Linked DNA regions of Homo sapiens: region 1 is linked to region 2. Evidence: fine-mapped expression QTL. A gene starts in region 2. The other region holds a variant in brackets. All regions are shown on one strand. Distances are from middle to middle.

The links. PIP is the estimated chance that this variant, and not a neighbour inherited with it, causes the effect.
Region 1: its variant is fine-mapped to the expression of B4GALT1 in whole blood (TOPMed, PIP 0.98).

What each region holds. Positions count from the first base shown.
Region 1 is chr9:33,109,755-33,114,754 of GRCh38, forward strand. It overlaps B4GALT1 (beta-1,4-galactosyltransferase 1), which reads right to left. Exons shown (of 6, transcript NM_001497.4): 5 at 4,020-4,124; 6 at 888-3,832. The coding sequence ends at 3,700. Among named protein-coding and RNA genes, the nearest start is that of MIR12117, 3.6 kb to the left of the region's middle. RefSeq lists an enhancer at 1,837-2,436. The variant A/C (reference allele first, on the strand shown) is at 2,871.
Region 2 is chr9:33,164,871-33,170,380 of GRCh38, forward strand. B4GALT1 (beta-1,4-galactosyltransferase 1) reads right to left here and starts at 2,466. Exons shown (of 6, transcript NM_001497.4): 1 at 1,888-2,466. The coding sequence starts at 2,299. It overlaps B4GALT1-AS1 (B4GALT1 antisense RNA 1), which reads left to right and starts at 2,078. Exons shown (of 3, transcript NR_108110.1): 1 at 2,078-2,176. RefSeq lists silencers at 2,218-2,491, 2,250-2,649 and enhancers at 2,317-2,882, 2,800-2,899, 2,883-3,447, 2,970-3,049.

The DNA.
Region 1 (5,000 bases), 55 kb before region 2:
AGACAGTGTCAGAATTGAGTTAAACTGTAGGACACCCAGCTAGTGTCCACTAGAAAACTGCTTGTTGGTGGGGAGAAATCCCTACATATCTAGGGGCAGAACTGAAGTGTTGTGAGTGGTGGTGTGTGAGAAGGAAAGAAACAGGTTTTTTTTTGTTTGTTTTTAATTTTGTCAGACCCTCTAAGGCAGCATTTTGTCCAAAGGACCAGAGTTGTCCTGTTTGAAGGCCAGATCTGAACCCCAGGCCACCTTTGCACAGGCCTGAGGTCACCAGGGATCCCTCCAGCAGTGACATGCAGGCAGGGCCTGCAGCTCCCTGCCAAGGGTGGCTCTCCTGCTCACTGGTTTCCTGCAGCCCTTCTTCAGGAGTGCCAATTCAATCCAACCAGCCTGACCCAGGGCCACCAAGGAGGAGGCACCTGGGTAAAAACTAAGACCTTTTAGAGCTTATGGTTACATTTCCTGAGACTGACAAGAAACCTCATTTTGGATAATTCCCTTCAAGTTACACTGTGAGCACCTGGTGCAAATGGCCCTGAGATCTACATCTGAATGATCCTGGTATCTGTTGAAAATAGCAGAATGTGGCCCAAGAACTGCTAGGGGAAAAAAATTCTACTTTGAAATGGCACTAGCTACTATGTAGTGAGTACTTGTGAGGCATTAGTCATTGTTTTACATATATCGTCACTTTTAAGCCTCAAAAAAGTCCCTATGTGTTATTATTCCCATTTTACAGATAAGAGAATGAAGTTCAGATGGGGAAATGTCTGATTCCAGGGAGGCATGTGTATTTGTATGGGTCACAGACCAGGGAATGACCCTGTCCCCACCCCATCCCACAGCCATGACAACCCTTACACCTGGCAAACAGAAACCACCTGCAGTTACAAAGATAGGGTCATTTATTCACGTTATATTATTTAATTTTAAAGGCAAAAATACAGTTCTGTTTTGAACACCAAGATCAGACACAGCCCCCTACACAATGGTAAATACACACATTTGCATACACAGGAAATCAAAATACACAGCACAACAGGTCTCTGGGACATGAAAGCCGTCATCCTGGCTATGCAGAGCCCCCGCCCCTGGCAGTCAGCAGAGACCCTGTCCAGGCTGAAGGCCAGCACAGCATCTCCTTTACTGTCCTGTGCCACCTCTGCCCTCTCTGATCTTTCCCAAAGGCCAGTTCACACAGAGTCACCAGCAATAGGATACACAGAAACAGAAAAGGGCACGGCACATGACAACTTCGCGGTCATAACTCCCAGGAAAAGGAAATGCTCCCTGAACCCCCAGCCCTGAAATCCCCAGTAAGGAAACAGGACCCGCGGCATCTCACGGACCAGGCAAACATCCAGGCCTAACTGTGCCCTGGCTGTGCCTTGGGCCCAGGTGAGCCCATGAGAGCACTACGTCAGCAAATGGGGGGAGCAGTATTTCCCTTGGTTCTAAGAATGAACCACATACTTGACATGAATGAGAAGGTAACCAAAAAAAAAAAAAAAAAAAAAAAAAAAACAACAAGAAAAGGTAGAGTTTGGTTTTAAGAGTAAAATAACACAGAAGTTACCACTCAGGGCATTTGTCTGATTTCTTTTAAGGCACTTTGGAAAAGTCAGGATCTGCGGACAGAAAGAGAGGCTTTCATTCTTCTTATTTCCCACAACTCCCTCTCAATGCAGTCATTTCTAGTTTTAATAATATCCTTGGTATAGAGTGGGGAACTGACAGAGAAATACTTTTTGCATAGTCCAGCTGCTTCTGCAATGGAAAATAATTTTTAACCAATACAAAGGCTTCTGGAAAAAGAACCAAGTTAGCATCTGAGATGCGCAAAGCAGTAAAGGCACAGATAAGACTGGGGCCAGGCACCAGCTCAGCCTCCACACTGAGGGCTGGTACCCAGGAGGGCAGTGGTTTGGGGTCCGCCACGAGCACAAGGCTCAACCCTGGGATTAGGCAGCTGAGTCTTGGAACCTGAGCCCAGGCTGGACCTGGCAAAGGCGCTCAGTGGTAGGAGTGCCTTGTGTCATCTCATCCCAGGTGGCTCAATAGCTCCCAACAGAGGTGGGTTTGTGACAGACAGCCCTGTGGGTGGGAGCCTCAACTGGGGTGGGAGCACCTGTGAAAACCTGAGGTGGAACAGGAGGCTTTAGGCACCGAAGTTCTTGGGAGGGAGTTGGGGTGTGGGTTCGGCTGAACTTCTTTCTAGATCACTAATTAAAAGGCACATTCATGCTGGGGAATGGATAGTCTGTTTGACCCTGAGTGCCACAGTCAAGTTTTAGGGGACAGGCAAGAGGCAAAGGAACAAAAAGGGAGACGAAGGAAGGAATGAGAAAGGCAGGGGAAAAGAGGAAGGAGGAAGAACTGGTAACAAAGGGTGGGCCACGGAGTGTGGCTAGCAGAGCCTCTGAGGGAGGTGGCCCCCACCAGAACAGAGGCTCCCTCTGCCTGGGGAGGTGCAAAGGGCTGGTAAACAACCTGACTGCTGTTATTTACAACCCCCCAGCCTAGGGGCCTGAGGGGTCAGTCTAAGGAGGCTGAGGCTCCCTCCGCCCTGCCCACCTGGGGAGGGTTGGGGAAGTGGAGAGTTCTGCACAGTAGGTGCAGAGGCTTCTGTCTCCCAGGTATCCTCCCCGAGGTCTGGCAGGATAATGCTGACCGGGAGGCCTTACCTGCCAAGGGGCCAGAGGGTGATTTTGCTCTTGAGAAAACCTGGCCTGCCAGCTAAATCATAGGCCTATTTGTGGCCACTACAGCATATATTTATTTTTCTCCCTAAAAAATGCTCAATACCCCTCCCCATATTTAAAACACCACAATAAAAATACATAGGAAATTCAAGTTTACATAGCATGCCA[A/C]GAAAAATAAATTGTCATGACTTAACATTAAACAGCTATGCAAATTTGGATCAACACAAAATCAAGCTAGATCATAATTAGAACTCGATCTGTTCTTTCTTTAAAATACTACAAACTACTATTTAAAAAAAAACACAACAACTTTACATTCAGAAATCAGACAATCTGGAGATAGGCCACTGAATGCGAGAAACCCAAGGCTTTTGCTCTGATGCTAGAGTTGCCCTGGAATCCACACACATAGGACAAAAGGTCCAGGGCTCAAGTTTTAAAATCCTTTTGCTAAGAAAAGACATATGCACAGTGATTGCAGTGGTTGCATACCACTGAAAGAAGGGGGTGGGGGGAGGACGTAACATTAAGAATGGTTGAAATTTTGTGTTTTTCTGTTAAATTACAACTACCAAAAAGATCACACCAATCCAATTTTAGCAGCACTCTCCGAATTTTCACGAATAAGAAAACCATAATTTAAAGAAAAATTCTAACCTATTTCACGACAATTTAGCAATTCTATCACCGGGAATGTGTTCCACGGCCACCAAATTTTGGGATGTGTACAGTTCTGACTCTGGGGTGACACTGCGAACACATCAAGAAACCCGCAAAGGCATAAACACCTTGCAGAGCTAAGAATTCACATGCCGAGCCAAGTTGGGGGCAAAATATCCCACTCGTCCTGGTCATCTGGAAAGCCATCTGAATGATGAGCGAAGGGGACCTGTCACTCAGACTGGTAAAAATGAGAGGGACCAGCCCAGCAGATTGGCAGAGACACACAGCAGAGGTCCCTGGCTAATTTCAGGTCTCTTATCCGTGTACCAAAACGCTAGCTCGGTGTCCCGATGTCCACTGTGATTTGGGTATACAATGGGTATCTCTGTACATCCAGCACCTGGTAGGTGAGTGAGTTCAAACCATCAGAGAGCATTGTCTCCTTTGTGTGTGCAATTCGGTCAAACCTACAAGGAAAAGAGCACAAGGAGATTGTCTTAAAACAAAAATCTTAAGAAGAAATCATCACACGTACTTCCTCCTCCCTCTCCACTGTAACCTGACCACCTCAATTTCCCTCTAGGCCCAGAGCCTCGGACCTGCAGCCTACCTCATCCTAAAGGGGGAAGGAGTATGAATAAACAAAGAATGCACCTCTGAGGATTGGGTTCATTTTTCTTGTCTCTTGAGTGGCGGATCATGCGACACCTCCCGACCACAGCATTTGGGCGAGATATAGACATGCCTCTAAAAACTAATCTGCAAAGAGTAAAGGGAAAGTCATTATCACAGAGCTGCCATACACTTGGCCTGAGAGCCCCGGCTGCAAGACTGTTGCTCCATCCACCATCACCCTTGCTGTTCTCACTCAGCCCACAACCCAGCATCATGCCAGAACCCAGCCCAGCATGACCCTGGTTAAAACTCACATTCCGACTCCATGTCCTTTTACAACTGGTTCTGCGGTTTGTGGTGTTGACTACCATGTGCCAGACACTGGGGCCGTGTGCCCCACAGAATATACAGTGTGAATGCTTCAAACATAGGGCCTTTAGGGCCAGGATGGAGGTGAGAAGAGGAAGATGAGGTTGGAGACACAGAGGAAGAAGCATAGAGTTTGTAACCTCTGCTGGAGCAAGCCTAGGCAGAGCCCAGTTGAGGATGAACAGGTATCTGCCATAGCATTTTGGGCAGCCAGGATGGCACAGGCAAAGGCATGGAAGTGAGAGCAAGCCTAGTGCCCTCAGGGAGCAACGTAAGCTCCTGGGGACTGGTGACAAGGGTCTGGGGTAGGACGTGGCAGGTGATGGGCTGAAAAGGGCCAGGCTAAGTCACAGAGGCCTTCTCAGAGCATCCCACAAACGGTTGCCAGTATCTGAAAGGGGCCTAATATACAGTATTTCCAAAATGCTTTTAGCCATGGGGAAGTCTCTGGAAAGTAGTATACGAATGGAGGGCTTCAGAACATGTGGGAAAAGGCAGAAAAAAACAAATGGAGGGCTGAGAACAAGACTAGAGGCAGCCAGAACAGGGTGGAGGATTCTGTGTTGGTCCAAGGAAAAGGAATGAGGACCAAAATGAAAGCCTGGAGAGCAGGACAGCAAAGTTAGTTAAGAGGCAGAACTGGCTGATCCC
Region 2 (5,510 bases):
AGAGCCATTTCTGTGGGAGTCTGAAAAAATGAAACTTTTTAAAGATCCTAAGCAAATATTATTACTATATTATTATTATACGGTGTATTGAGTGCCCGTATTTTTTTTTTTTTTTTTTTTTTTAGACAGTCTTGCTTCGTCGCCCAGGCTGGAGTGTACTGGCACAATCTTGACTCACTGCAACCTCTGCCTCCCAGGTTCAAGCAATTCTCCTGCCTCGGCCTCCTGAGTAGCTGCGATGCCACCACCCCTGGCTAACTTTTTTGTATTTTTGTAGAGATGGGATGGTGTTTCACCATATTGGCCAGGCTGGTCTCAAACTCCTAACCTCAAGTGATCCACTCCCCTCAGCCTCCCAAAGTGCTAGGATTACAGGCGTGAGCCACCATGCCCAGCCTGAGTGCCTGTATTTAATGTACACGATCTCATTTAGTCTTAAAAAAACCCCTGTAAGGTAATCATCGACAACCACATTTTACACAAGGAAGAGATTTTGAGAAACTCGATAGCATGTCTCAAGTCAGACACTTAGCAGCAAGGCAGAGTCCATTTCATTTTATGGGACTAGTCTGCTTCCCAGAATAATCATCAAATGCAAAGGAATTTAATTATCTGCTTAAAAAAACAAGCCCCCATTATTACCACAGTTCACGTCTGACCAATTCCAAGATGTTCTTCCCAAACTTGATATGAACACATTGACGCAATTACTGGCGAAATTGAGCAAGAGTATGTAGTAGCCAGGGCTCTGTGGGAAAGTGACAGAAAACTCCTATTGGCAGGATGTCATCCTGCCTGCCAGGGCCCCTCACTTACAACAATTATCTAAAACCTAGCATTAGAAATGAGAAACCACCTGTGTGGTAACCCTGGAAGCAACCTGTGGTTGCCTTGGGCCTGTGGGCCTGTAGGTTACAGGTCAAAGAGAAGTCCAGACTAGGCTCAGCCAGCTGCTATGAGGAATGCAAACTCACCTACTCAAGCTCTCTGCCTATGCTGAAACAGGCTAGAGGTCAGAGTTCAGATCATCTGGGCAAGATAATTGAGACTCAGGCTGCTACCGGAAGTACCAGAAATGGGCAACGTGGTGTTGACTGGTTATATTTTAGCCCTCTAACACCCAGAGTACACAAGCTCTCTGCCCCTGGGAGAGATCCCTGCTCACCTAGGTTTTGGGTACCCATACCAGGAGGAGGCTAGGGGGAAGGGCTCTCGGTCACGATCCACACAGAGGAAGAAATGAACACACAGTGACAATTTACTGAGGGCTTACCCTCATTAATTAAGCCCTTATTTACCATTGTTCACAATATCTTCCAAAACAACCCCTTGAAAGGGTGACCATTTATTATCCCAGAAGAGAAATATGAGGTTCAGAGAGAAGTCACTTGGCCCAAACGATCAGGAGAAAAACCCACTCAGGAGAGTGGCTCTATGGCAAGACACGTGAACCGAGAGGTCAGTCTCCTTCCCCACCGGGAGCCTCACGTCAGTCCCCAAAAGGGAGTGGATTACTCGAGGTCCCTACCAGAGTTCTCAGTGCAAGGCTGCTCGAAGCCCTAAGCAGACCCAAACTCCAAAACTTCCTGAGCCTCGGGCCACAGCAGGGAAGTCTCCAAGGCCTTCTCTGGTTCTGGGGCTAGAGGGGCCTCGGGACTTCCCTGTGCGGTCCCGGCCCCACGCCTCCAACAGGACTCCCCAGGGACCCACCTCGCAAACCTTCTCTCCCATCCAGTCCCAAGCCTCTGTCTGGGATTTAAAACTCTGATCCAGAAGAGGGAGGCTGGCTGTCGTAGAAGAGCCAGCCTGAGGGAATGTCTGGGGGACCCTGTCGGGGAAATCCGGGGGGGTCCCAATCCTCCGACTGGCGCCGACCCGAGTCCTTACCAAGCAGCGGGGACTCCTCAGGGCAGGCGGGCAGCGACAGTGCGGTGGTGTGGGGCACTGGGACCGAGGTCAAGTTGCTAGCGGGGCCAGGGCCAGAATCCACGACTGGGCTGGAGTCGCCACCCGGGCGCGGCTGGGAGGAGGCGCCTAGAGGAGGCGGCGGCCGGGCCCCTCCGGTCCGGAGCTCCCCGGAGGACTGCCCGATGGCGGCGGCACTGTTCGAGCCGCCCTGCAGCGGTGTGGAGACTCCGACCAGTTGGGGCAGGCGGCTCAGGTCGCGGCCAGCCAGGTAGTAAACGAGGGTGACGCCAAGGTGCAGAGCGCAGACGGCCACGAGCAGGCGGCAGGCCCGCTGTAGGGACGCGCCTGGCATCGCGGCGCTGCCGCTCAGGAGCGGCTCCCGAAGCCTCATCTTCCCGCCGCCGCTTTAAGAAGGGTGTGGGCTACAGGAGGGGAGGCGACCCGCCCGCGGGCCGCCCGCCAGGCGCTGCCCCACAGCGGCGACTAGGGGAGGGCCCGGAGCGGGGGCGGGCGAGCGGCTGAGAGCTGAGACTCCTCCAGCCAGCCAGACCTGGGAGCGGCGAGAAGCCGCCCGAGGCGCCGGCGGAGAGGGGAGGGGCGGGGCCCCGGCGAAGGCGGGGGCGGGGCCGGGCGCGGGGTTTTCTGGACGAGGGCGGGAAGGCGGGGCAGCCCGTGGCGGGATGGGCGCGCTGGGCGGGGCCTCGGGAGGGTGGGCAGCGGGCGGGGCGCCGTCGTGGGGTCCCCGGAGTATGACTGCAGCTCCGACGCTTGGCCGCGCACCGCCCTCTTCCTCCCGAGCCTTTGCGGCGGAGCTTCGGTCGCGTTGAGCCGCGCCTCCTCTTCCTCCTCCACGCTGCCCTCGACAGGCCGCGCCACTTCCTGGGGTGCGAAGGGACTCGGGTGCGAGCCTGGGCCTGCAGCGCGGCGGCGGAGAGAACGGAGAGGACAGCTGGCGGGTGGTTATCTGGAGTGGTTTGGGGCCGCGGCGGCGTTCTGGCCAGTGGGCCTTGGTGGGCTAGGAAGAGAGGCAGAAAAAGGTTACCCAGGAAACGGGCTTCGACGCCGGGCGAGGAGTGGCACGTTCGAAACCCCCTCCCTAACTCAGCCCGGCTGGACCCCGCTGCTTAACGGGGGGTCCTGCGGCAAAGAAAGTGGACGGGTTGCCACTTCTGTGCCTCCCCATCAGGTAGCCTGGGCTATAAGGGGCTCTCAGACCAGCTTGGTTCCAGATGTGTGTGTGGCGGGAGTCCTGTATACTTTGAAGAGGAGAGCAGCAAGAAGCCTCTAACTCCCAGGCCAGCGTGCAGGAGATCAGCCGGCGTTACAGTCTACACTGGGCTACCCACTGTCCCATGAAGTAGCAGTTCTCCCCATGTCGTAGAGTGGGGCCCCGGCAGATTAAGAAACTTTCCTAAGAGCCCACAGCTGGCAAGAGGCAGAATTCTGGCTCCGAAACCCATGTTTTCTACAGGTTTACCCTTTGTTGATTTGCAAGTAAGGGCTGAAGGCTGTGTGGGTGAGAGACTTAGGCACTGAAGCCACTTGACCTCGATTTGACCCAGAGGCCTCAGGCCCTGAGTGAGCAGAGACACCTCACCCCAGAGAAAGACTCATGGAGGTGCTGTCAGTAATGTGGATAGGGAAGTTGAGGGCTCTGGCAGCCAACCATCAGGGAATAACAGTAGCTACCTTATTTTGAGAGTTTGCTGTGTGCCAGTACTATCTGCCATGAAGTAGGTGGTGTTACGGTGTCCATTTCACAGATGAGAAAATAAGGCTTATGAGTTGACACTTTGGTTGTGATCATACAGAATCAACTTTCCTCACTTGACTTCCTGGACACCAGGTCCTTCTGATCTTCCTCACTTCACTGGCCATTTCTGTCTCCTCTCTGGACTTCTTCCCCAGTTGCTGAAGGCCCCAGCCATAGTCCATGATGTTCTTTTGTGTCTACACTTACTGCCTCGGAATGATTTATAATATCCAAATGCTGATCACTGATTTGTCTCCAGCCCAGATCTCTTCCCTGACCTCCAGATTCAACTGCTTATTTTACTGGCATCTCAAACACAATACATCTTGCCCTCAGCAACCTACTCCTTACACACCACTCCCGTTCTTACCTCCCTCAGAGAGTGATACTATTGTTTATTCAGTTCCCCAGAATCTAAAAGGTGTCCTTGATGTGCTTCTCTTGCTCTCAATGCCATTTGCAAGCCCTCAGCCAGCTTTGTCAGTGCTACCTTCAAAACATCAAAATTCACCACCAGCCAACTCTGATGTAACCATCCTCGATCAAGCCACCATCATCTTGCCCTGGGTTATATGGCAGCTACTAATTGGTCACCCTGCTTCCACCTCCTCCATTCCTCCTCCCTAGTCTGTTTTCCACAGAGCATCCAGGAAATCTTTGTAAGCATAAATCAGATCATGCCATTTTGTTCAGAACCAAATCCACAGAAACCCTGTTCAATCTGGTTCCTATTTCCCTCCCCACCCACATCTGTCACTCTACCATGCTGGACCTGCCTTAGCCACACTAGCCTGATAGCTATTCCTTGAACTTGCCATATTTCTTCCTGCCTCAGGGCCTTTGTACTTGCTGTTCATTTAGCCTGAAACACTTGTCCCCAATATTTCATTCAATTCAGGTCTCTTAAATGTCACCTTATGACAGAGACCTTTTCAGACTACCTTATGCAGAATGGCCTCCTGCCCAAATCTGCTTAAACTGCTTGAATTTTTTTTTTTTTTTTTTTGAGACAAAGTCTTGCTTTTGTCCCCCAGGTTGGAGTGCAATGGTGCAATCTCACCTCACTGCAACCTCTGCCTCCCGGGTTCAAGCGATTCTCCTGCCTCAGCCTCTTGAGTAGCTGGGATTACAGGTGCCTGCCATCACGCCGGGCTAATTTTTTGTGTTTTTAGTAGAGACGGATTTCACCATGTTGGCCAGGCTGGTTTCAAACTCCTGACCTCAGGTGATCCGCCCGCCTCGGCCTCCCAAAGTGCTGGGATTACAGGCGTGAGCCACCGCGCCCGGCCTTAACCTGCTTGATTTTTTTCAGAGTGGATATCAACTACCCAACATTATGCATTTATTTTCTGTTGTCTTGCCTCCCTCATTAGAAAATCAGCTTCATGAGAACAGGAAATTTCTCTCTTGTTCACTACTGTATCTTCAGCCCCTAGATTTTTTTTTTTTTTTTTTTGAGACGGAGTCTCACTCTGTCACCCAGGCTGGAGTGCAGTGGCGTGATCTTGGCTCACTGCAAGCTCTGCCTCCTGGGTTCACGCCATTCTCCTGCCTCAGCCTCCCAAGTAGCTGGGACTACAGGTGCCTGCCACCATGCCCGGCTAATTTGTTTGTATTTTTAGTAGAGATGGGGTTTCACCGTGTTATCCAGAATGGTCTCAATCTTTTGACCTCGTGATCTGCCTGCCTCGGCCTCCCAAAGTGCTGGGATTACAGTTGTGAGCCACCGTGCCCGGCCGATATTTGTTAAAATACTTTTTAAATACTGTGATCATCTTAATGATGTGGGAAGGAGAGAAGGGAAAAATTATTGCTAACTTAGTTTAGAACGTAAAGTGGAGTTCTCCAA